Linked DNA regions of Homo sapiens: region 2 is linked to region 1. Evidence: fine-mapped expression QTL. A gene starts in region 1. The other region holds a variant in brackets. All regions are shown on one strand. Distances are from middle to middle.

Region 1 (8,390 bases):
GCCAGATGCTGAGTACCTCCACTGGCTGCTGTGAGTACTGGAGTACTGGGGGTAGGGGGTGCTGCCCAGGCGGGAAGAGGAGCTGGGAGCCTGGACTGAGCTGCTCCTGAGTTTCATGGACTACCCATGGGACCTTGAATTCACCTGCCACCTCTGCCTCCTGAGGGTGTTAGGGGCCCTGGGATCCACGTGTCTACTTGAAGACAGCTACAGGAGACAAAGTTTGCAGTAGGCCTCGGTCAGTCCCCACAAGCCTCCTCATCTTTTCTTTTCTTTTTTTTTTTTTTTTTTGAGACAGGGTCTCACTCTGTCCCCCAGGCTGGAGTACAGTGGTGCAATCATGGCTAATTGCAGCCGCTAACTCCTGGGCTCAGGTGCTCTTCCCACCTCAGTCTCCTGAGTAGCTGGGACTACAGGTGCAAACCACTACACCCAGCTAATTTTTGTATTTTTTTATAGAGACAGGGTTTCACCATGTTGCCCAGGCTGGTCTCCTGAGCTCAAGCGATCTGCCCGCCTCCGCCTCCCAAAGTGCTAGGATTATAAGCGTGAGCCACCATGCCTGGGCCCTTCGTCTCTAAACTCATTTCTTCACCTGTAAAACTGGGATAATGGCACCACATGCCTTACTCAGCGTGAGGTGGACTGTGACAGTCACGTGGGAGAAGGAGCGGGAGAGGCCTAGCAGCTGTGGCGTCCCCCAGGTGCTCCTTGAACCACTGGGCGCTCCTTCCCTGGGCCCAGACTGGGCGGCCTTCCATCTTGGTAGCTTTTGGCTCTGAACACCAGGCCAGGGGGCAGAGGTCAGGCCAGTGACCCCAACTTTGAGCCTTCTGGTTAACTGGGGACAGTGACTGGGAGGCTGGTTTCCGTCATTTTTATTCAACTGTTACCAGCCTATGCGGCAGGACCCTCTGGGGATTTGTGCCTGAGGCGTTGGCCGCCCCTGTGCCAGGCTGGGCACACACTCCCTGACGAGGTCCTGGAGACTTCAGGACGCAGAGGGAAAAGCAGCCAAAAGTGGCCTGGCTTTCTAGCCTCAGTGACTGTGGCGGACCCACCGGCTCCCGGGGCCTGGAAGCGGCTGCATGGCCTTGCTGTCAAGCTGATGCTCTCTGGAGCCCTGTCCCCCACTCGGAGCTCCTCCAGCCCGCTTCCCGTATTTGCAGCATGTCCCGGCGTTCACAGAGCTTGGCTGCCTCCTCTGTCCCAGGAGAGAGATGCTTAGAGCTGTCCTCCCAGGGAGTCATGTCAGCCTCTAGGGTGTGCATGGAGCTGAGGGGACACTCCTGCTGCCTCCCTGGAGTGGTAATTAACCGGGACTTTCCTCCTCCCAGAACCAACATCCCGGGTAACCGGGTGGCTGAAGGACAGGTGACGTGTCCCTACCTCCCCCCCTTCCCTGCCCGAGGCTCCGGCATCCACCGTCTTGCCTTCCTGCTCTTCAAGCAGGACCAGCCGATTGACTTCTCTGAGGACGCACGCCCCTCACCCTGGTAATCTACACCACCCACACATAACCCGGCCTCAGGCCAGCTCCCCTGGAACGGTCACTCTTGCTCAGTTCTCTCTTGACCTCAGCCTTGAGACTGGCAGAAGAGCAGGATAGGGTGCTAGCAGACTCCCAGGGGCCTCTCAGGGTTACCTGTTGGGGTGGCGGGGTGAGGGGCTCTGGTGCCCCACTCCACACTCTCATACGCTCTCTATCTTCTCATAGCTATCAGCTGGCCCAGCGGACCTTCCGCACTTTTGATTTCTACAAGAAACACCAAGAAACCATGACTCCAGCCGGCTTGTCCTTCTTCCAGTGCCGCTGGGATGACTCCGTCACCTACATCTTCCACCAGCTTCTGGGTAAGGGCCATGGGGCTGGGGCACTGGGTGGGCCTGAGCTCCCAGGCCTCGCCTGCCCTGCCAGGGAGAAGCTTTGTTAGGGGAAGGCTGCGGCAGGTCCCTGGTGGGCAGGCCTCAGCCTGAGGGGGCGCAGGCCAGCAGACCACCCCGTACCCCTCACTCTTCTTGCAGACATGCGGGAGCCGGTGTTTGAGTTCGTGCGGCCGCCCCCTTACCACCCCAAGCAGAAGCGCTTCCCCCACCGGCAGCCCCTGCGCTACCTGGACCGGTACAGGGACAGTCATGAGCCCACCTATGGCATCTACTAAGGAGCCAGAGTGTGCGCATTTCAGAGCATGGGATTGATCGGCAGCAAGAGTAAAGACACAGCTCCAGAGGCCCACACTGTGGGGTCTGGGCCCTGCCTTAGGCAGCCCCCCTCTTTGGCCCCCTCCCGTCAGGCCCAGGGCTTGGAGTGAAAGTGACTCTCAGGTGGTGGGGTGGGGAATGTGAATAAACATGATTTCTTGCCGGGCTTGGTGGCTCACACCTGTAATTCCAACACTGGGAGGCTGAGAAGGGAGGGTCGCTTGAGCCCAGGAGTTCAAGACCAGCTGGCAATATAATGAGACCCTGCCTGTATTTTTTAAAAAAAGGGATTTCTGCCATAGCTGGCCTGGGTCGGTGCTCCAGGGCCAGAGGACCCCGATGGAGCTTCATGGGTGGGAAACGGGCTGCCTCCCACCCCACTAAGTGCGTCCTCACCTCCGTCTTCTGAGGGTGTCAGGGGCCCTGGGATCCGAAGCAAAAGCAGGCAGTGGGCCAAAAACAGGTGTGGCCCAGGGAAGGGAGACATCCCAATCCAGCAGGTTCCTGAAACCCAGCTCCCCGAAAAAGTGGAGCAGAGCAGCTGGGCTCAGGAAGGAGCATTTATTGAGCACTGGCTCTGTGCCTCAGGGGGGTCCCACCGGCCCCTGGAGAGAGAGTGCCTGCCCGAGCACTGACCCTCTGCACAGGCTCCAGCCCCCACCCCATGCTTGGGAGGAGAAGCCACATTAGGTAGGCAACAGCGTGTCTCAAGAGACCTGCTCAGGGTCAGAAAACCCATGGAGTCTTGCGGCTGGATGGTTAGGTGTTTTGTTTCTCCCTTACCAAAAGCAGAAGTCTGGCTAACTAGTAGGTGGAGGGTAGATCCGTGCACTTTGTCCAGAAAGAAACTTCGTCTATGGCCGCACAGAGGACGCAGTGCTTGCTGCAGCAGTGAGAGCTCGTGCCGCCTCAACATCAGCCCAGCTTGGTTAGAAAGGCCGTACTCTCCTGGGGTTCCCCCTGGCCTGATACACACTGTCAGGTAGGTGGGCGCTAGGCCCCAGACCCGCCTTGCCTGCTCAGCTTCAGGGGAAATGCTGGAGTGCCTGTAAATACTGAGGCTGCAGATCAGCTTGGACCCCAGGCAAGGAACTCTCCCCAGCGGAGGGCAGCAGGAAGAGGGGATGCTGATTGCAGATGAAAGCTGGTTTGTGTATTCATTCAGGGCCATTTGAAAAATACCAGTTAACTGGTCCCTGTCTCTTGGTGACCAGACATTTCCATCTCGCTGTTTACTTTAAAAGAACCAAAATTACGTGTAGCCCAGAGAAGGGAGACACCCCAGTCTGGCAAGTGTCCGAAACCCAGCTCCAGGAAAAAGTGCAGCAGTGCTCGGGTCTGCAGGGAGCCCGCCAGCCCGTTTCATCGCCAAGCCCCGGGGGATTGTTGGGGGTGGGGGTCTATGCTGTTAGGCGACTGGCAGATGAGTCCAGAAGAGGTTCCGCGCGGCCCGTGGTCAGAAGCCCGGAGTCCTGGCGGGGTTTTCGAGCCTCTGGTCTCCAGGACCTGGGCTGAAGGCCCAGGGGGGTGGGATGGACCCGCCAGGCTGGGACCCTAGAGAGCCGAACTCAGCTCTCAGCCGGGGTGGCGTGGACCCTAACGGAGGGAGGGGCGCAAGGCGGGAACGCGGAACCTTCGAGCGGGCCAGGCCGAGGTGGGCAGGGGTGGCCTAGGCCCCTGCGGCGGTCGCTCGTCGAGGGTGTCAGAGAAGGGCCTGCCGCCCCCCTCCGCCTTCCCGGGCGCGGATCTCGCCCCGCCCCGCCCGGATCTCGCCCCGCCCCGCGTTAGCCACGCCCAGGCGCCCTCAGCGCGCGAGGCCCGCGGTCCCTTTAAGACGCCCGGGGCCCGCCTGGCTCTCGCCGCCGCCGGGCCATGGCCGCGCAGCTGCTGGAGGAGAAGCTGACCTGCGCCATCTGCCTGGGGCTCTACCAGGACCCAGTGACGCTGCCCTGCGGCCACAACTTCTGCGGGGCCTGCATCCGGGACTGGTGGGACCGCTGCGGAAAGGCGTGCCCCGAGTGCCGGGAGCCCTTTCCCGACGGCGCCGAGCTGCGCCGCAACGTGGCCCTCAGCGGCGTGCTGGAGGTGGTGCGCGCCGGGCCCGCCCGGGATCCCGGCCCCGATCCCGGCCCCGGCCCCGACCCTGCCGCGCGCTGCCCCCGCCACGGGCGGCCGCTGGAGCTCTTCTGCCGGACCGAGGGCCGCTGTGTGTGCAGCGTGTGCACCGTGCGCGAGTGTCGCCTCCACGAGCGGGCGCTGCTGGATGCCGAGCGCCTCAAGCGCGAGGTGACGCATCCGCCGGGAGCGGGAGGGGTCCGGACCCGCCGCAGCCTGGCCACCGCCGGGTGACTCCTGCGGGCCGCGCCCTGCTCTCTCGGGCACCCGGCGGGGGCGGGGAGCCTCATCTGTAAGGGGCTTCTCCCAACCTGGGAGCTGATTATAAAAGTCGTGGGTCTGCCAGGCGCAGTGGCTCACGACTGTAATCCCAGCACTTTGGGAGGCCGAGGCGGGCGGATCACGAGGTCAGGAGATCGAGACCATCCTGGCTAACACGGTGAAACCCGGTCTCTACTAAAAATACAAAAAGTTAGCCGGGCGTGGTGGCGGGCGCCTGTAGTCCCATCTACTCGGGAGGCTGAGGCAGGAGAATGGCGTGAACCCGGGAAGTGGAGCTTGCAGTAAGCCGAGATCGTGCCACTGCACTCCAGTCTGGGCGACAGAGCGAGACTCCGTCTCAGAAAATAAACAAACAAAAAATCGTGGGTCTGTGCATCAGACTGGGATATGCAGCCCGGCCAGTGACACAGGGTGGGTCTCAGAAGCTGCTCGGTGCCCTCTGGATGAACAAAGCCTGGGCGTGAGGCAGCAGCTCCCTGCTCCGTGCCCAAGCGCTAGAGAACCGTCGTGTGTCTCCTGCGCTCCGAGAGCCTCCTTTCATTCGCTGTGCGGGGTTGTGGAGGGCGAGGGGGCTATGGGGGCTGTTGGTAAATGGATCAGACGAGCTCCCTGCCCTTAAGAGACTTAGAATCCACTTAAGAAGTCAGTGTTCCAGTAAGGCGTGAATGTATTATTACAAAATGCAGTGAGGAAAGCACATGGCATGTGATAGAGGGGTTGGGGTGACCCTGCTAAACGGGCCAGGAGGAGGAAGGGGAGGCCGCCTTCAGGCTGGCATGTGAGGATTGAGGAAGCGCAAGCCAGGAGAAAGACCTGGGGAAGAGCATTCTAGGCAGAGGAATCAGCCTGGTCCCGTCTCTGGGATGGGAAAGAACTGGGCACGCGGGGTCCCTAGTGGCAGATTTGTGCCACTGAGATCTGTGGGCCAGGCCCTGGGGGTCAGCAGGGGCAGGATCGGGCAGGGTCCTGGGGGAGTCTGGCTCTTACTGTAGGGTCATGGGGGCCATTATAGGCTTGGAAGCAGGTTGGCACATGATCAGATTTGGGCTTCATGGAGACTGATCACCTGGCTGGGGGCTGAAGGGGGCAGGATGTAAGACCCGAATCGGGTAGGAGTGCAGGGAGGCAAAGAACCAGCTGGGGATCAGGGAAGGGAGACCAAGATGGAGGAGGAGATGAGAAACGCTGAGGGGAAGTGGTACCTTGTGGAGGCGAAAGCAGGCCAGAGGGGACACGGGGGACAGCAGAGAGGGCGGCAAGGGAGACACCTGGGTTTCTGTCTTGAGCACGCAGGTGGCTGGGGTGCTATGTCCTGAGAGGCGTAGGTGGAGGGCAGAGTTTGGCCTTGGACATATAGAGGTCACAGTGGCCAGTGGGACAAACCAGGGGACGGGCCTGTGGCACCTGGGACCCTGGCCCCAGCCCTGCCGCGCGCTGACCCCGCCCCGGGCAGCTGCTGGAGCTCTTCTGCCAGACCAAGGGCTGTTGTGTTTGCAGCTTGTGCACCATGAGTGAGGGTCACCTCCTCAAGTGGGTGCTGCCGCCAGGAGCAGGAGGGGGCCGGACCCCCCGCAGCCTGGCCACCACCGGGTGCAGTGGCTCACGCCTGTAATCCCAGCACTTTGGGAGGCGGAGGCCGGTGGATCACGAGGTCAGGAGATTGAGACCATCCTGGCTAACATGGTGAAACCCTGTCTCTACTAAAAATACAAAAAATTAGCCAGGCCTGGTGGCGGGCGCCTGTAGTCCCAGCTCCTCTGGTGGCTGAGGCTGGAGAATGGCGTGAACCCGGGAGGCGGAGCTTGCTGTGAGCTCCAAAGCTCAGGAGCGGGGAGCTGGAAGTCGAGAGCTGGGAATCATTAGCGCTAGGAGGAAGAGAAGGTTCCAAGCTGGAGCTCCCAGGGAGATGGGGAAGGTCGGGGGAATGGCAGCCCTGTGTGGCACCTGGAGACAGGGGTGCCAGGAAGAGAACGGGCAGGATGCCCATGCTGATCAGAGGCTCAGTACGAGGACAGAAATGACCTTCAGCATCGGTACTGTGGAGGTGGTCCGTGCCCTTGACAAAACCCATTTCAGCAGCGAAGACAGGATGTGGAATCATTCGGGGACAGAGGAGGCCTGGGGCTAAGGCGTGGATGGAGGATGGCGCAGGGACGCTGGATGGGACAGGAAGGGAAGGGGTGGCCAGGAGGCCTGATGGGCAGGGAGGGATGGGAGAGTGCACGGCTGGGGGTCGGTGAGGTGGGAGGACTGAGACAGAGGTGGCTGGAACAGGAGAGGGCACGAAGGCAGTGGTCAGAGAAGGAAGAATCGATGCCTAGAATGGAGATTTTAGAGCTGGTGACAGGGCCAGGGTGAGTTCACAGGAGCGGCTGAGATGAGGTGAAGGAAAAGGGCTCCAGAGTGTTGCGGGACATTCCTTGTAGCTGCTGAAGCCGCCGAGGAGGATGAGACGAGATGTACTGCTCATGGGCGGGTGCAGAAGACTGAGCTAGGCACGGAAGTTTGAGTTGGAGGCCGGTAGATGAGGGCCATGTGGAGGAAGGGAGCGACAGGGGCAGCCAGTAGCACCAGGGGAGCCAGGATTTTGCAAGAGAGAGGGAAAGGGACATGGGGGTGCCTGTCCCTGGGGGAGGGTTGGGTGCCCTGGGAGAGCCTGCCCTCCGGCCTCCTGTGTTCCTGTGTGAAATGCTGGAGGCTGGGGGCCCGGAGGAGCTCTGGGCTTAGGAAGATCTGAGGACTTTGACCAAATTATCAACTTCTCTGAGCCCGTTTCCTCCTCTGTGATGTGGGGATAGTAATGGTCCCCATCTCAGTGCATTGCGGGAGGAGCAGAAACAAGGTGGTGAAGCTTTTGACCAGGTGCTGGGAATGGAGCCCCTGGGACCTGCGTGGTTTGTCCTGCTCTCATGAGAGCACGGTGTTTTGATTCCCAAGGGACTCAGGGAGCGCAACCGAATAGGGGTCCCTTCCTCCCCTCTCAGTCTCAAAACTAGGGCCAGGGACTGGCCGGATCCCCAGAAGAATCTAGTTTATCCAGCAAGTAACTGCCCACTTGTCAGACAGCTTTGGTGCTTTGGGAGGTCCCTGCAGTCAGCTTCTCAAGCCCCAGGGCCTCCTGGGCCACTGACCCCTCTGCAGTGAGACAGGGACCAACGGCTTTAGTGTTTGGGGTCCTCCCTGCGAGGCCTCCTGAGCCAGCATTATCGCTTTCCTGTATTGATGGGTGGGGGGTTAGGCCCAGAGAGGACAGGTGCTTGGCCTCAGCTTGCTCAGCATGCAAGAGGTAGAAATGGGAATGGAAGTTGGGTCCTGAGCCCAAGGCTTCCGCTCTGCTCAGGCACCACCCTGCTGCAGATTAGGAAGGACTTTGTCTGGACCCCCCCGGGGCACGGCCCCAACTCTCCCTGGGTTAGACCGAGGCCGGTGCTCTGGAGGCTGGCCTGGGGTGGCGTGGGGAGGGGCTGCCTGGTGTCTGCAGGCATGGTTGGTTGTCTGAGAAAGGACATCACAGCCAATCCTGGCCTTCTCTTGTTGCTTGTCCCGTGGGCCCGCACCACAGGCCCAGCTGAGAGCCAGCCTGGAGGTTACCCAGCAGCAGGCCACCCAGGCCGAAGGCCAGCTACTAGAGCTGCGCAAGCAAAGCAGCCAGATCCAGGTACGAGGCCTGTGCCTGCCCGCCCACCATGGCCTCACACTGCATCCTGGGGCGGCCACCAGCTGGTCCCTGGAACACCAGGCAGCAGGGAGCGGGGCTGAGCAGGGAGCTGGGCACAGGGGTCCTGGGGAGG
Region 2 (15,170 bases), 44 kb after region 1:
TGCCCGGCTAATTTTGTAGTTTTAGTAGAGACGGGGTTTCACCATGTTGGCCAGGCTGGTCTTGAACTCCTGACTCAGGTGATCTGCCCGCCTCGGCTTCCCAAAGTGCTGGGATTAGAGGTGCGAGCCACCGAGCCCGGCCCTTTCAGCAATTTTTTTTTTTTTTTTTGAGACGGAGTCTCACTCTGTCGCCGAGACTGGAGTGCAGTGGCTCGATCTCTGCTCACTGCAAGCTCCGCCTCCTGGGTTCACGCCATTCTCCTGCCTCAGCCTCCTGAGTAGCTGGGACTACAGGTGCTCACCACCACACCCGGCTAATTTTTTTGTATTTTTTTTTTTTAGTAGAGACAGGGTTTCACCGTGTTAGCCAGGATGGTCTTGATCTCCTGACCTCGTGATCTGCCTGCCTCGGCCTCCCAAAGTGCTGGATTTACAGGCGTCAGCAACTGCGCCCGGCTGCTTGCAGCAATTTTTTAAGATGACAAAATAAAACAGAAAATTTCAGAATATATCCCACTACAAAATACAAATTAAGCAGCATGTGGTGGTGGCAGGGCCTGTACTCTCAGCTACTTGGGAGGCTGAGGCAGGACCACTGCTTGATGCCAGGAGTTCAAGACCATCCTGGGCAACATAATGGAACCCCATCTCTACCAAAAAAATTTTTTAAACTAGCCAGGCATGGTGATGTGCACTTGTAGTCCCAGCTACTTAGGAGGCTGACGTAAAAAGATTGCTTGAGCCCGGGAGGTTGAAGGTGCAGTAAGCCATGACTGCACCACTCCAGCCTGAGTGACAATGTAAGACAGGGTCTCGCTCTGTCACCCAGGCTGGTCTCAAACTCCTGGGCTCAAGCCCTATATATTTTTACTGTGGGTCAAGGTAAGGAAAAACAGCCACCGTTTGGTAAATGCTGCCAACCTTTTTTTTTTTTTTTTTTTTTAAATTTTTAGAGGGAGGGTCTCACTATGTTGCCCAGGATGGTCTTAAACTCCTGGGCTGAAGCAATCCTCCTGCCTCAGTCTTCCAAAATGCTGGGATTACAGGCATGAGCCACCTCTACGGGCCTGCCAACCTCTTTTATGTCATGGCACACACAGAAAATGATTTGTTCAGTGAAAATGGTATTTATTTGGCTCACTGGGGCAAACAGATTCATCTTATTGGGAGTCAAGAGGCGACCAGGCGGGGGCGGTGGCTCATACCTGTAATCCTAACACTTTCGGGAGTGTTAGGTGGGCGGATGACTTGAGGTCAGGAATTTGAGACCAGCTTGGCCAACATGGTGAAACCCCATCTCTACTAAAAATACAAAGATTAGCTGGGCGTGGTGGCACGATTCTGTAGTCCCAGCTACTCTGGAGGCTGAGGCATGAGAATTGCTTGAACCCGGGAGGCGGAGGCTGCAGTGAGCAGAGATCATGTCAATGCACTCCACCCCAGGAGACGGGCAAGACCCTGTATCAAAAATAAATACATAAATAATAAATAAAATTATAAACAGAAAAAACAGGTGACCAGTTCAGGGGCTCAGCTGCCCCAGACCTTGCCTGCTGGTATCTGAGGCCAACCTGCACTCCTCCTTAGCGCACCGCTAAGATGTGCTCCAGTGTGGAGAATATGAGCATCATACTGCAGTGAAAAAGAGATCTGGAGACAGGCAGACAGGAGTATGAGGCCAGAGGAGAGGTCTGAGTACTGAGACCTGGGCCCAGGGGAGCCTCCTGCTGCTCACCTGGTTCAGCAATAAACCATTGTTGAAGTCTTCGGTTTGAGTTTTGAGTTCTGGTACGTTCCAGCCCCAAAGTCATGGGAGCCGCCCAGGAAGTGTGTTCACATGGTCATATGTTTTTGTAAAACTTAGAAATTCTGGACATTGTAGCCGGAGCTGGTCAAGCTTGTTATCTCTGCACTGCAACTTCCTCTTCTTGTCATTTCCCCTCCTGTCAGGAGGCCTCACTGTAGCCACAGTATTGTGAATGAATAATTGTGGGGTTGTTTTTTTTTTTTGAGTTAGAGCTTTCCTCTCGTTGCCCAGGCTGGAGTGCAGTGGCTTGATCTCAGCTCACTGCAACCTCCGTCTCCAGGGTTCAAGCGATTCTCCTGCCTCAGCCTCCCGAGTAGCTGGGATTACAGGTGACCGCTACCACACCCAGCTAATTTTTTGTATTTTTAGTAAAGACGGGGTTTCACCACGTTGGCCAGGCTGGTCTCAAATTCCTGACCTCAGGTGATCCACCTTCCTCAGCCTCCCAAAGTGCTGGGATTACAGGCATGAGCCACTGCGCCCGGCCTGTGTATTTTATTTCTTAAAAAGAGCCTCCAGATCACTTGAGTCCAGGAGTTCCAAGGAAGCAGTGAGCTATGATCGCACCTGGGTGACAGAATGAGACCCTGTCTCAAAAAACAAAAACATAAACAACCAAGACAGCCTCCAAAATTGTATAAGCTTCAAGGCCTGGCAAAACCTGAACTTGCTCCTGTCTCCAACGTATTTGGCAAAGGGGTGGGAGAGGGGTGGGCAGGTTGTCCCCATCTTCCCATTTATGGTCCTTAGAGCAGCCAATGCTGCCTGCTCTTTGCTGGGGGGATTTTCCTTTTTTTCTTTTTCTTTTCTTTGAGACAGAATCTTCCTTTGTTGCCCAGGCTGGAGTGCACTGGGACGATCTTGGCTCACTGAAACCTTCGCCTCTCAGGTTCAAACAATTCTCATGTCTCAGCCTCCCTATTAGCTGGGATTACAGGAACCACGCCACCATGCACAACTAATTTTTGTATTTTTGCGTTTTTTTTTTTTTTTTTGGGATGGAGTTTTGCTCTTGTTGCCCAAGCTGGAGTGCAATGGCGTGATCTCGGCTCACTGCAACCTCCACCTCCCAGGTTCAAGGGATTCTCCTGCCGCAGCCTCCCGAGTAGTTGGGATTACAGGCGCGCGGATTACAGGCGCTTACAGGCGCACAACACCACACCCGGCTAGTTTTTGGTATTTTTTAGTAGAAACGGGGTTTCTCCATGTTAGCCAGCTGGTCTTGAACTCCTGACCTCAGGTAATCCGCCGACCTTGGCCTCCCAAAGTGCTGGGATTACAGGTGTGAGCCACCGCGCCCGGCCTAATTTTTGTATTTTTATAGAGATGGGATTTTGCCATGTAGTCCAGGCTGGTCTCAAACTCCTGGCCTCAAGTGATCCACCCACCTTGGCCTCCCAAAGTGCTGGGATTACAGGCACGGCACCAGGCCTGGATTTTGCTTTTCTTTTTCTTTTTTCTGAGATGGAGTCTTGCTCTGTCGCCTAGGCTGGAATGCAGTGGCATGATCTTGGCTCACTGTAACATCTGCCTCCCAGGTTCAAGCGATTCTCCTGCCTCAGCCTCCCGAGTAGCTGGGATTACAGGTGCCCGCCACCATGCCCGGCTAATTTTTGTATTTTTAGTAGAGATGGAGTTTCACCATGTTGGCCAGGCTGGTCTTGAACTCCTGACCTCAGGTGATCCACCTGCCTTGGCCTCCCAAAGTGCTGGAATTTGGCTCACGCCTTTGGCGTGAGCCACAAACCCCGGCCTGCTTTTCTTTTTTAAATTTACATATTATTTATTTATTTTTATTTTATTTTATTTTGAGATGGAGTCTCACTCTGTCACCCAGGCTGGAGTGCAGTGGCGCAATCTCAGATCACTGCAAGCTCTGCCTCCCGGGTTCACGCCATTCTCCTGCCTCAGCCTCCCAAGTAGCTGGGACTACAGCCGCCCGCCACCACGTCCGGCTAATTTTTTTTTTTTTTTTGTATTTTTAATAAGGGGTTTCACTCTGTTAGCCAGGATGGTCTCGATCTCCTGACCTCGTGATCCGCCCGCCTCGGCCTCCCAGAGTGCTGGGATTACAGGCGTGAGCCACGCGCCCGGCCTAAATTTATATTTTAAACGCACATAGGAAAAAAAAATTAAACAGTACCAAAGAGTACAATGCATACTGACATACCGAGTCACCAATCCACCCCAAATTCCTAGACCCATGTCTCAAAAATGCCACAGACATTTTCTGATGGATCTTTGCAAAAATTTTCTATCTAGATCCTATTTTTTATACAAATACAACTATATGTATACAGCATTCTGTGCTTAATAACCCTTGATGATCTTCCCATATCAGCACATAGTCTGACTTAATTCTTTTTAAAGACTGCAGAGATTGCAGGCGCCAAAATACATCTAACCATTGGGGCAGATTTCATTATGACTATCCTTAACCCACTGTACTTGTCCCGCAAGGTCCAACCTGGTATTGCACAGGACCTCACAGAACGCTGCTGTTTCCTGATCTTTTCTAGTGAGGCAGCTTTGTTTCTTCACATAGGAGACCTCCCTGGAAAGCGAAGTCAAGCAGGTGGATCTAGAGGTTGGCCACCACAGTCAGGAAAGCAGCTGTCTACTGAAAAGCAAACTCTAATTCCTTAACATTAACGAGTACCGGAACTACCACGTGGGAAGTGCAGCCCCCTCTCTCCGCCTCACGGATTCAGCTCGGAGGTGCAGGGGTTTGGTGGGGGGCGGTTAGGGAATGACAGCTGCCCCGTGGAGGACGCCCAGGGCTGGGTCACGAGCTGACAGGAGTCAGCCTTATTCTGTAAATCCTAGTTATCAGGATGCCGGTTTCGCGCCGTGCCCAGTCCCACTCAGCCTTCAGTCTTCCGGCCGGGACCCCGCTGGGCGCTAAGGGGGGAGCGGCGCCACCGCGAGGCCGGAGAGGGGGCTGCGAGGGGCGCCCGGCCGGCCTGCGAACGTGGTGGGAGCCAGGCGGGGCACACGGCCTCCCCTTCCCATGAGGGACTCTCCCCGCCCCCCGGGCTCAGCGCTGGGAGTGGTGAGATGGATGGCGGGGTGATCCGACGCCGCCAGCCCACCGCGTCCCCAAGAGCCGGGGCCTCCGGCTCAGCTAAACGCCCCAGAGTCACGCATGCGCCCCATAAACGTCTGCTGAGTGAACGAAAGCTCCCCATCCACAAGGGGACAGCTCGGCGCTCCCACGCCATGTCCAGGTCGCATTCGACCAGCAGGACTTCCCTTAACGCGCTGCCGGAGTCCCCAAGATCGCGCCCCTGCCAGGAGCGGAACTGTTTATTTCCGTCCGGCTGAAGAGGCGGGGTGGGGATGGCACAAGCCGATTGGTTACGCAAAATGTGGAACCAATTCAGGCCTATGATCCAGGAGACTACAAGTTCCAGAATGCATCCTTCCTCCAGCATAGGGACAGGCCGAGGCTGCGGGGGCGTTGCCTGCTGGGAATTGTAGTCTTCATCTTGTTTGTTGCGCAGGAGGAACTGGAAGGAGGGAGTAAACTATTACCACGTGACGTTCGGGTCAGGTGTTTGGGCCAGCCTCCGCACTCGAGCTTTGATTGGCTGACTCTAATAAGAAGACGCCACTAGGGGCGGGGCGAAGAGGGGCGCAAGCTCATTGCGTTTTGAGTCTCGGGACCCCTGTTGGAGAGACTATGGCGCTCAACAAGAATCACTCGGAGGGCGGCGGAGTGATCGTCAATAACACCGAGAGGTGAAAACACTGCGGAAGGATCCTGGAGGACCAAAGTTCGGGTGTCGAGGAAGTGGGCGGTGGGTGGTGGGTGGTGGGGAATAAGCCCCTGAAGAGGGAGCACTGATGGAGTGAGGTTGGTGGGGAACGGCTGGGGGCGGGGTTGGAGGAAGGTGGGTGGGCCGTGGGGGAGAGCCCGGGAGGTTGTGATCAGCTGGGAGGCGGGGGTGGGACGTCTGCATGGGGACCTGGTATGGGGCCCCCGGTGGGGCCTAGGGGTGATTCTTGAACCCCTTCCCAGACTTGTGATTTCAGTAGCTGGGAGGAGCCCCAAACAAAAATAATTGTCACTTATTGGATGTCTACAACGTTACTACGTGTCAGGCTCTGCGCCTTTTCTACCTTATTTAATAAATTCTGTGCAGTATAATCTACTACTGTCCACATTTCACAGGTAGGGAAAGTGGAGGGCAGAAAGGTTAAGTAACTTGCCCGAGATCGCAACTGTGTAAGTAACAGAGGTGGTAATTCCAGGAAAGGAGTCTTGACTCCAAAGTTAATAGGATTAACCACCAGCATACAGGCTTCCAGTATGTTCCAGAACTGTTCAGGTTCCCGGTAAAAAACTGAGGTCCCAGAGGTGAAATTAAACAGATGACGTTTGTCAGGTGTCTAACAGTTCCTGGCACTGTGTGGGTCCGTAGTCATTCCCTTGCCTCTCTCTTGAATGCCTGTTGGTTTGGGTCACCTCGGAAGGCAGAGCTCTCCTAATTCAAGGTTCTTTCCACTCCATCCTCCCCACCCCTTGCTCATTGCATCCTGTCTCTCCTCCAGTCTCTGCCAAGAGAAGCCTTAAATGGCCTCTGTCTCCTTTTGTTCCTTGGGTATTGAAAATCAGACCAGCCAGCCCTGGGTTGAACTATGCCGACCCTGAATTGCCTCTTGAAGGCAGAAGGAGCTTAGGAGGCACCTGAGTCCCCAAAGGAGACATCGTGGAGTCAGAGCCCTGTACCCAGCTAAGGCCAGCATCCAGCTGCCCTGTGACTTGGGAATGTTTGATGAGTCAGAGGAAAATGCCTAGAGTGACCCAGCATGCTCACTTTCCCTCTATCTTACCCGCTCAGAGTTTCATGGGCCCAGCCTGTTGCTGGTAATTCCTTCTTTTCTCTGAGCAGTACTTCTCTTCTCTTTTTTTTTTTTTTTTTTTTTTTTTTTTAGATGGAGGCTTGCTCTGTCGCCCAGGCTGGAGTGCAGTGGCACGATCTCAGCTCACTGCAACCTCCGCCTCCTGGGTTCAAGCGATTATCCTGCCTCAGCCTCCCCAGTAGTTGGCATTACAGGCACCCGCCACTACACCCAGCTAATTTTTTGTATTTTTAGTAGACATAGGGTTTCACCATGTTGGGCAGGCTGGTCTCGAACTCCTGACCTCGTGATCCACCCTCCTCGGCCTCCCAAAGTATTGGGATTACAGGAGTGAGCCACCGCGCCCAGCCATTTTCCTTTGCTTATACCAGTTGTTTCCCACTTACCCTTCCCCAGTCAGAGAAAGTTGTGATATATGGGGGGAGGCAGAAGACAAACAGAACCGTGTGAACCTTTTTATCATGTAATCAGAGACACCTCACACTGTTTTGTTGCATCTCTGTGTGTGAGTCAGTTCCCAGGCCTGGCCAGCTTTTCGTGCCATTTGGCAACATCTCTGGGGACTGTTTTTCTTTCTGTCTCTGTGGAACTTTCTGAGACAAGAATGTATCTATCCTGCTCGGCCTTCTACCTGGCTTAGGGCTCAGTCCTGCTAAGTAAGGTGTGCCTTCAGCCTGCTGTTTTAGAAAGTGCTTCAGCCTGCTGTCTGAAAAAGTTGTATCTATAACAATTGAAGTGTTAAGTCCAGTGTCCAAAATTTGATAATTAGGCTGGGCATGGTGGCTCACGCCTGTAATCCCAGCACTTTGGGAGGCTGAGGTGGGTGGATCACTTGAGGTCAGGAGTTTGAAACCCGCCTGACCAACATGGTAAAACCTCGTCTCTACTAAACACAAAAAATTAGCCAGGCGTGGTGGCGCATGCCTGTAATCCCAGCTACTTGGAAGGCTGAGACAGGAGAATCGCTTGAACGCAGGAGGTGGAGGTTGCAGTGAGCTGAGATCACGCTATGTTGCACTGCAGCCTGGGCAACAAGAGTGAAACTCCGTCTCAAAAAAATAAAAAATTATAATTAAAATAGTGAACGTTACTCTTCAAGTCGTGAACTCCTTTGACAATGATGAAAGCTGTGGACTCTCCTCCCAGAAAAATGCACATATGACATACGTGATCATCTCAAGGGCTTCATGGACTTTCCTGCAAACCCCGCTTAAGAACCCAGGTTTAAAAGAACCCCGAAGGACGTCCTATTGTGATCTGTACAGTCATCTCTTAGACATGTTTATATTTTAGGCTTGAAAAACAAACCAGCAAAAACAGAACATCTATCACAAGGACTTAAAAGAAAATAGAAGAGTTGGCCGGGCGCAGTGGCTCACGCCTGTAATCCCTGCACTTTGGGAGGCCGAGGCAGGTGGATCACGAAGTCAGGAGATCGAGACCATCCTGGCTAACACGGTGAAACCCCGTCTCTACTAAAAATACAAAAAATTAGCCAGTCGTGGTGGCGGGCGCCTGTAGTCCCAGCTACTTGGGAGACTGAGGCAGGAGAATGGCATGAACCCAGGAGGCGGAGCTTGCAGTGAGCCGAGATCACGCCACTGCACGCCAGCCTGGGTGACAGAGTGAGACTCCGTCTCAAAAAAAAAAAAAAAAAATAAAGAAAATAGAAGAGTTAAGCCAGATTATCTAACTTGCTTGAGGGATGATGGCCTCTTCAGAGCCCTGTAGCTCTGCTACCATGTTGATCATTTGGGGGCTTTATAAGCGGGGTTTGGGAAATTTTACAGAACCCCCAACCTGCTCATTTCTTCCATGGCTATATTAATGGGTTTTTTTGTTGGTTTTTAGTTTTTTTGTAGAGATGAGGTCTCACCATGTTGCCCAGGCTGGTCTCAAACTCCTAGGCTCAAGCGATTCACCCGCCTCAGCCTCCCAAAGTGCTGGGATTACAGGTGTGGGCCACTGCGCCTGGCCCTATGAATGGCTTTATTTATTTATTTGTTTTTGAGACAGAGCTTCTCTCTTGTTGCCCAGGCTGGAGTTCAGTGGCGCCATCTCAGCTCACTGCAACCTCTGCCTCCTGGGTTCAAGCGATTCTCCCGCCTCAGCCTCCTGACTAGCTGGGATTACAGGTGCCCGCCACGGTGCCTGGCTAATTTTTTTGTATTTTTAGTAGAGATGGGGTTTCACCATGTTGGCCAGGCTGGTCTCAAACTCCTGACCAGGGGTCATCCGCTCGCCTCGGCCTCCCAAAGTGCTGGGATTACGGGCGTGAGCCACCGCGCCCAGCCCTATGAATAGTTTTAATGCCGCACTATTGAGAGGTTATGAGAGCTGACGTGCCGGGCAGCTGCTTGGGAGAAAGGCCCAGTGTCTGGGTGACGTCGCGTCTC[C/T]ATACTGTCTCATTGAGGCTTTTCCTCTTTTCTCATCACAGCATCCTAATGTCCTATGATCACGTGGAACTCACATTCAATGACATGAAGAACGTGCCAGAAGCCTTCAAAGGGACCAAGAAAGGCACTGTCTACCTTACCCCTTACCGGGTGAGTTGCACAGCAGGGCAGTTGGTTGAGAGGCTTGTTGCTGTTGGAGGTGACGTGAGTCTTAGTCTCAGGTCTGCCTCAGCCTCATGAGTCAGGTGGCCTCTGAATCCTGGTGAGTGTTAGTGCTTCACTCTGCCTGTTTCTCTGTCACATGCTCCTGGATTCCAGAATCACCAGGCTCTTTGTGTAACTGACCTGACCACTGGGCAGTGAACCCATGTCAATTCCAGAGCCGCTGCTGCAAAATCTCTATAGAGTTGGATGCAGCCGCTGGCATGACTTGGGCCTGGAGGCCAGACTATTATTATTAATATTTTGTTTTCTGTGAGAGTAGCCCATGAAGCCCTGTGTGTATCCAGAGTGAGAAATCCAGTAAACAGGGTACAGTTGCATGGCACGGCCTCCGGACTGGGCAGAGAGCCCGGTACCACCCCGCAGAATGACAAATGCCAGGCTGCAGAATGGGCCCTGCCTGAGAGTTACCCACGTGGACTCTGAGAGGTTGAGAAATACAAATGGATGTTCTTGGAAAAGGATTGCTGCCTGTGGCTACTCAAGATTTAGACTCAAAGACAGGCTGGTGCGGAGGCTCATGCCTGTAATCCCAGCACTCTGGGAGGCCAAGGTAGGCAGGCCACTTGAACTCAGGAGTTCGAGACCAGCCTGGGCAACATGGCAAAACCCCATCTCTACAAAAAATACAAAAATTAGCTGGGTGTGGTGGCACATGCCTCTAGTCTCAGCTACCCGAGAGGTAAGGTGGAGAATAACTGGAGCCTGGAGAGGTTGAGGCTGCAGTGAGCTGGGATCATGCCACTGGATTCTAGCCTGGGCAACAGAGTGAGACCCTGCCTAAAAAAAAAAGACTTAGACTCAAAGACAGCTGGAAGAAGAGGAGCACATTTTCAAGTTTTAATCTCCATGACTTCACAAAGACAGGAGAGTCTCAAAACCCCATCTCTGGAGGCTCAACTTGGCACCTTCAGTCACAGATAAAAGTCGTGGGTTTAAAACCCTGGCTGGGGCCGGGTGCGGTGGCTCATGCCTGTAATCCCAGCACTTTGGGAGGCCGAGGCGGGCGGATCATGAGGTCAGGAGATCGAGACCATCCTGGCTAACACGGTGAAACCCCATCTCTCCTAAAACTACAAAAAATTAGCCGGGCATGGTGGCGGGCACCTGTAGTCCCAGCTACTCAGGAGGCTGAGGCAGGAGAATGGCGTGAACCCGGGAGGCGGAGCTTGCAGCGAGCCAAGATCGCGCCACTGCACTCCAGCCCAGGCAACAGAGTAAGACTCCATCTCAAAAAAAAAAAAAGAAAAGAAAAGAAAAAATAAAACCCAAGGGTTTCTCCAGGCACAGGCTCCAGGAGAGCTCTTGTTGCTGTTTATAGCCCCCCTCAATGGGAGCTAGCGACCTACTGCACCATCATTCTCAGTTCTGGAGAGTTCAGGCTGGAGACCCCCCTCTTTCAGGAACCCATCCCTGCCTTGCCTCTGCCTGTCCTTCCCTAGCTTCGTAGGCCCCTTCACTTAGGCAACACTGCCACCACCCCACCACGTCAGTGACAAAGCAGTCTGCCCTGCTCATAGATACTATCTGTGACCAGCACGTTTTTCTCCCGTGTGCGTGAGCTTGGCCTCTCCAGGCTGCGGTGAGCCCTTTCCCTTTCCAAAGCTCTCTCCAGGAGTGTCTGGCACAGAGAGAGCCATGGGGCTGCTGGACCCTGGCACTGGGAGAGGATTCGTCACTCCCAGGAAGCAGGCGGGAAGCATGGCAGCGTGGGCTGTGCTTCTAGTACTGATGGCCTCACCCTCTCTCCCTGCAGGTCATCTTTCTGTCCAAGGGCAAGGATGCCATGCAGTCCTTCATGATGCCATTTTATCTCATGAAAGACTGTGAGATCAAGCAGCCCGTATTTGGTGCAAACTACATCAAGGGAACAGTGAAGGCGGAAGCGGGAGGTAGGTGATGGGAACTCAGGGACACGCATGGGGCCTGCAGGGAGGTGTCCTGGGAACCTCTGACTGCCGCCGTGGGGGCGTCCCCTTCAGACCCTTATCGCCCTAGCCATGACCTCTTCCCAGCTCTGGGCTGCCAGCTGGTGGGGTTTGATTGCCAAGAGGTGGGGAAAATGCTGGCATGAAAGACAGCAGCTCAGATCAGCTTTTCAGAGCGTGAAGTCTGCAGAAGCCTGCGGACTGAGTCAAGATGCTTAGTGCAACTTGGCGAGCGCATACAAATTTTAGACTCAGGAAGGAGCTGCATCAGGTTCTTGAGAGGGGCCTTTTCATGAGAGCCAGGAAGAGGCAGCTGCCTCTGGGAAGCCAGAGTCACCCTGCTTTGGGGCTGGCTTTTTGGCAGGCCCCAGAGACCTCTGCATTGAACTTGCCTTCCCCTTGACACCCAGCCAGGCCCGCCCTTGCTATTGAGACACTCTTGGTCCCCCTTTGGGCAGAAGCCAGGCTAGAGGGGCCGGAGTCTGTCCTTGGGCCCCCTTAGGACGAGAGGTCTGCTCTGAATTTTAAGGTCGGCTGTTGCTGAGTGGGCTTGTTCCTGTGAAGCTGCCGAGTGCTTGACTGGGGGCGGAGAGAAACCTTGATGTGGCCTTGGCACCCGTGTACATATTGGGCCAAGGGTGGGAGGACAGGCTTGTTCCAGGAAGGAGAGGCCATTGTTCCAAAGGGGGAAGCGAGTACAGCAGGGCCAGGCCAGGCTGCAGTGCTGGCTCCTATGCAGGCAGCAGGCTGGAAACCATGGCACCAGGAAGTCCCCATCACAGTGCAGGCCCAGCCCCCGCAGGCCTCCCGGGCGTTGGATGAAGTCCTGGAGAGGAAAACAGCCATCTCTTTGGGCATAAGTTTTCTTTTCCTGTGCTGTTTATTCACTGTCCTTCCCCTTTCAGGTGGCTGGGAAGGCTCTGCTTCCTACAAGTTGACTTTCACGGCAGGGGGCGCCATTGAGTTCGGACAGCGGATGCTCCAGGTGGCATCTCAAGGTATCCAGGCTCCGAAGATTAGGGGCTAAAGACACACTAAACATGTAGGGGTTTGGTATGAGTTTGCTTCCTTTTCGTTTTGCTTTTTCAAGAACTCAAGAGGTAAGTGTTTGGGCACCAGGCTGACCAGGCCTAGGAGTTGGGAAGGAAAGCTGTCATTGGCATCAGCTCTGTCCTGTACCTCAGAGACTGCGTTTCCCTGCCTGGGGCAGGTGGATGACGTTTTGACAAAGCTGTTTGGACTCAAGGACACTTTACTATGGCCTCATAAAACAAACACTAAACCAACCATTCGACTGCGGTTCCGCAGCCATTGAAAATGACCGAGGGATGGGCCAGCAGACATCCTCCGCCAGCTCACTCCTACCCCAGCCCTGAGCCTCCCTCCCGGCCTCTGTCCACCCTCCAGCCTTGCCCTTGACCTCCCTTGCCTTCCCCTGGCTCTGACCTCTCCCGTCCTCTCTCATCCCTGACCAAGGTGGCCCCCCGAGTATGGGTGGAGGGTGGAGTGGGATGGACAGAGGATGTCTGCGGGGCACATTCCTGAGACCCAGTAGCTCCCATCTGCAGGCAGCGGGGCTGCCCTCTCCCCGCCCCAAGGCAGGCCACGCTCATTTCTCTTTCCCCTTGTACTCGTAGCCTCCAGAGGTGAAGTCCCCAGTGGAGCCTATGGCTACTCTTACATGCCCAGCGGGGCCTATGTCTATCCCCCGCCAGTCGCCAATGGAATGTACCCCTGCCCTCCTGGCTACCCCTATCCACCGCCCCCACCTGGTGAGTGTGTCCTTTGCTGCCCCCACTCCCCTCATGAGCCCACCTACCCAGGCTCCCCCCAGGCCAGGGAGACTTTATTCCTTGAGCTGCTTCAGGACCAACGAAGGAGCTGGAGAGGCCCCCCTCACCCGGGAGGGGGCCGCAGCCGGGTGCTCACCATGTCCTTGTTACTCTCTCACCGAGCAGAGTTCTATCCAGGACCCCCCATGATGGACGGGGCCATGGGATACGTGCAGCCCCCACCACCGCCCTACCCTGGGCCCATGGAACCTCCGGTCAGCGGCCCCGATGTCCCCTCCACTCCTGCAGGTGAGGGCCCTTGGGTGCTGGCAGCCCTTCGGGACCAGCCCTCTCCTCCCCGATGTCGCACAGAGAGCCTCAGAATGGCCAGAGACTGCTGAGAGCCGCAGATGATGGATGACCCCTGGACTACCCCAGGGGCCCAGCAGGGCTGTGGCCTGGTGGAGCGGAGCTAGATTCTGGCCCCACCCCCATCCCTTAGCTATCCATGTGCCCTGGGCGGGGAAGGTCACCCTGTGTGCCTCTCGATCCTCTCATCTACACTCAGCTGGTCGGTCACAGTGGCACCTGGGGCATTGGCTCAAGGATTAGATGAGGTGAGACATGCGATGGGCCTGGAAAGGACCGTGCCAGCGCGTGGCATGTGCTCAGGAAACCTCACCTGCTGCTCTCATTGGTGGAACTGGACCCCCAGCACCAGCTGCCCCGAGCCATGGGGGCCCGGGGTCTCTTAGCTGAGCTCAGGGGGAGGAGAACTTGTCACCGACACCAGGTGTGTTTGCTCTCACAGCCGAAGCCAAGGCCGCAGAAGCAGCCGCCAGCGCCTATTACAACCCAGGCAATCCTCACAACGTCTACATGCCCACGGTGAGAGGGCTTGGCAGTGCCGGTGCAGCCCCACAGCCGCAGATGCTGGGAGCCGCAGGGGGATGACCGCACCATGTTTTAAACCTTCTAATGCAAGTCTCTCCTTTCTCCCTTCTTTAGAGCCAGCCGCCGCCACCTCCCTACTACCCACCGGAAGATAAGAAGACCCAGTAGGCCCTCCTGCCTCCCTGCCTCCCACCCTCATCTCTCTACCCTACCCCTCCCATCGGGGCTGTGCTGGGGCTTGGGGAGGGGAGGGGGCGCCTTGTTCTCCCTCCAGGTCTGATCATAAACAATTACCAGGAACTAGCATTGTGGGACATTAGGGCCCCCGGCCTCGGGAGAGGTGCCGCCCAGCTTCCCATGCCAGCCCGGAGCCCACAGTGCTGCCCAGCGTACCTCCCTCACCGTCTGGGGCTCTTCTGGGAGCACGGAGCATCCCCTGTTCCTGTTTCACTCTCAGCTTCTCCCCTCGAAGGGACTCTCTGGCCACCTCCTCCACCGCAGTCCAGCTCCCTCAGTCTGGCACCCACTGCTACACTCAGCCTCATGAGCCACTTCAGACCAGCCAGGTGTCTTCCCGGGCCCTGCCAGACCCTGCTCACATTCCCTCTGCTGGTCTGTGCTGGTCTCAGAAGGCCACCGCGCCCGCATTCCACTCAGCCAGGGTCCAGCTGCAGCCCCCGCCACCCTTCCTTCCCTTCCCTGTCCTGGGTCATGTTGTTGCCACCCTGTGTGACTTTTGAAGCTGTAAAATGAGCTTCCAGGGCTTGGGTGGCGTCGGGGCAGGGCCGCCGAGGCTGGGAGGAAGCCCTTCTGCCTTTTGCTGGTGTTTCTGGAATTTGCTTTCCCTCACCTCTCACTTCCTTCTAGAAGGAGCTTCCTGACTGGAACCAGAGAATGCATGTCTGTCCACTTGGTGGCTGCTGGGTGGGGCCGGGAACAAGGGCCCCTGACCCTGTGTGCTGGCCGGGACCTGCCACCAGCCCCCCAGCCTGCTTCTTCCCCTTAAGCTTTGTGCCCCTGGATGCGCTAACATTCACTCTTGTTTGTCCCTGGACTGGCCATGAAGTGAGGAGATGGTTATTTAAAGAGAATTCCCTATTTATTTGACAAAAAATCCAGTTAATATATTAATGTGAAATAAACCCTGTTTGCACCTCGATTTGTTTGCTGAAAATGTGAAATAGTAAAAATGAAATAACTGGACCCTTTCTGGCTCTGCGTGTGGTGACCCGGGGGTCTCTTCCGGAAGGAGAGCCGTCTGGCCGCTGAGGGCCCTGGAGACTTC

Evidence for each region.
Region 2: its variant is fine-mapped to the expression of TRIM65 in whole blood (INTERVAL, PIP 0.99).

What each region holds. Positions count from the first base shown.
Region 1 is chr17:75,892,622-75,901,011 of GRCh38, reverse strand. It overlaps TRIM65 (tripartite motif containing 65), which reads left to right and starts at 4,061. Exons shown (of 6, transcript NM_173547.4): 1 at 4,061-4,488; 2 at 8,162-8,257. The coding sequence starts at 4,075. MRPL38 (mitochondrial ribosomal protein L38) reads left to right here. Exons shown (of 9, transcript NM_032478.4): 6 at 1-30; 7 at 1,338-1,496; 8 at 1,718-1,854; 9 at 2,026-2,368. The coding sequence ends at 2,162. RefSeq lists enhancers at 2,927-3,634, 3,635-4,344 and silencers at 3,712-4,191, 4,222-4,791.
Region 2 is chr17:75,845,617-75,860,786 of GRCh38, reverse strand. WBP2 (WW domain binding protein 2) reads left to right here and starts at 5,452. Exons shown (of 8, transcript NM_012478.4): 1 at 5,452-5,548; 2 at 9,111-9,219; 3 at 11,048-11,183; 4 at 12,125-12,217; 5 at 12,857-12,991; 6 at 13,178-13,300; 7 at 13,803-13,879; 8 at 14,000-15,088. The coding sequence starts at 5,490. The coding sequence ends at 14,053. RefSeq lists enhancers at 3,833-4,628, 5,237-5,366 and a silencer at 4,697-4,866. The variant C/T (reference allele first, on the strand shown) is at 9,070.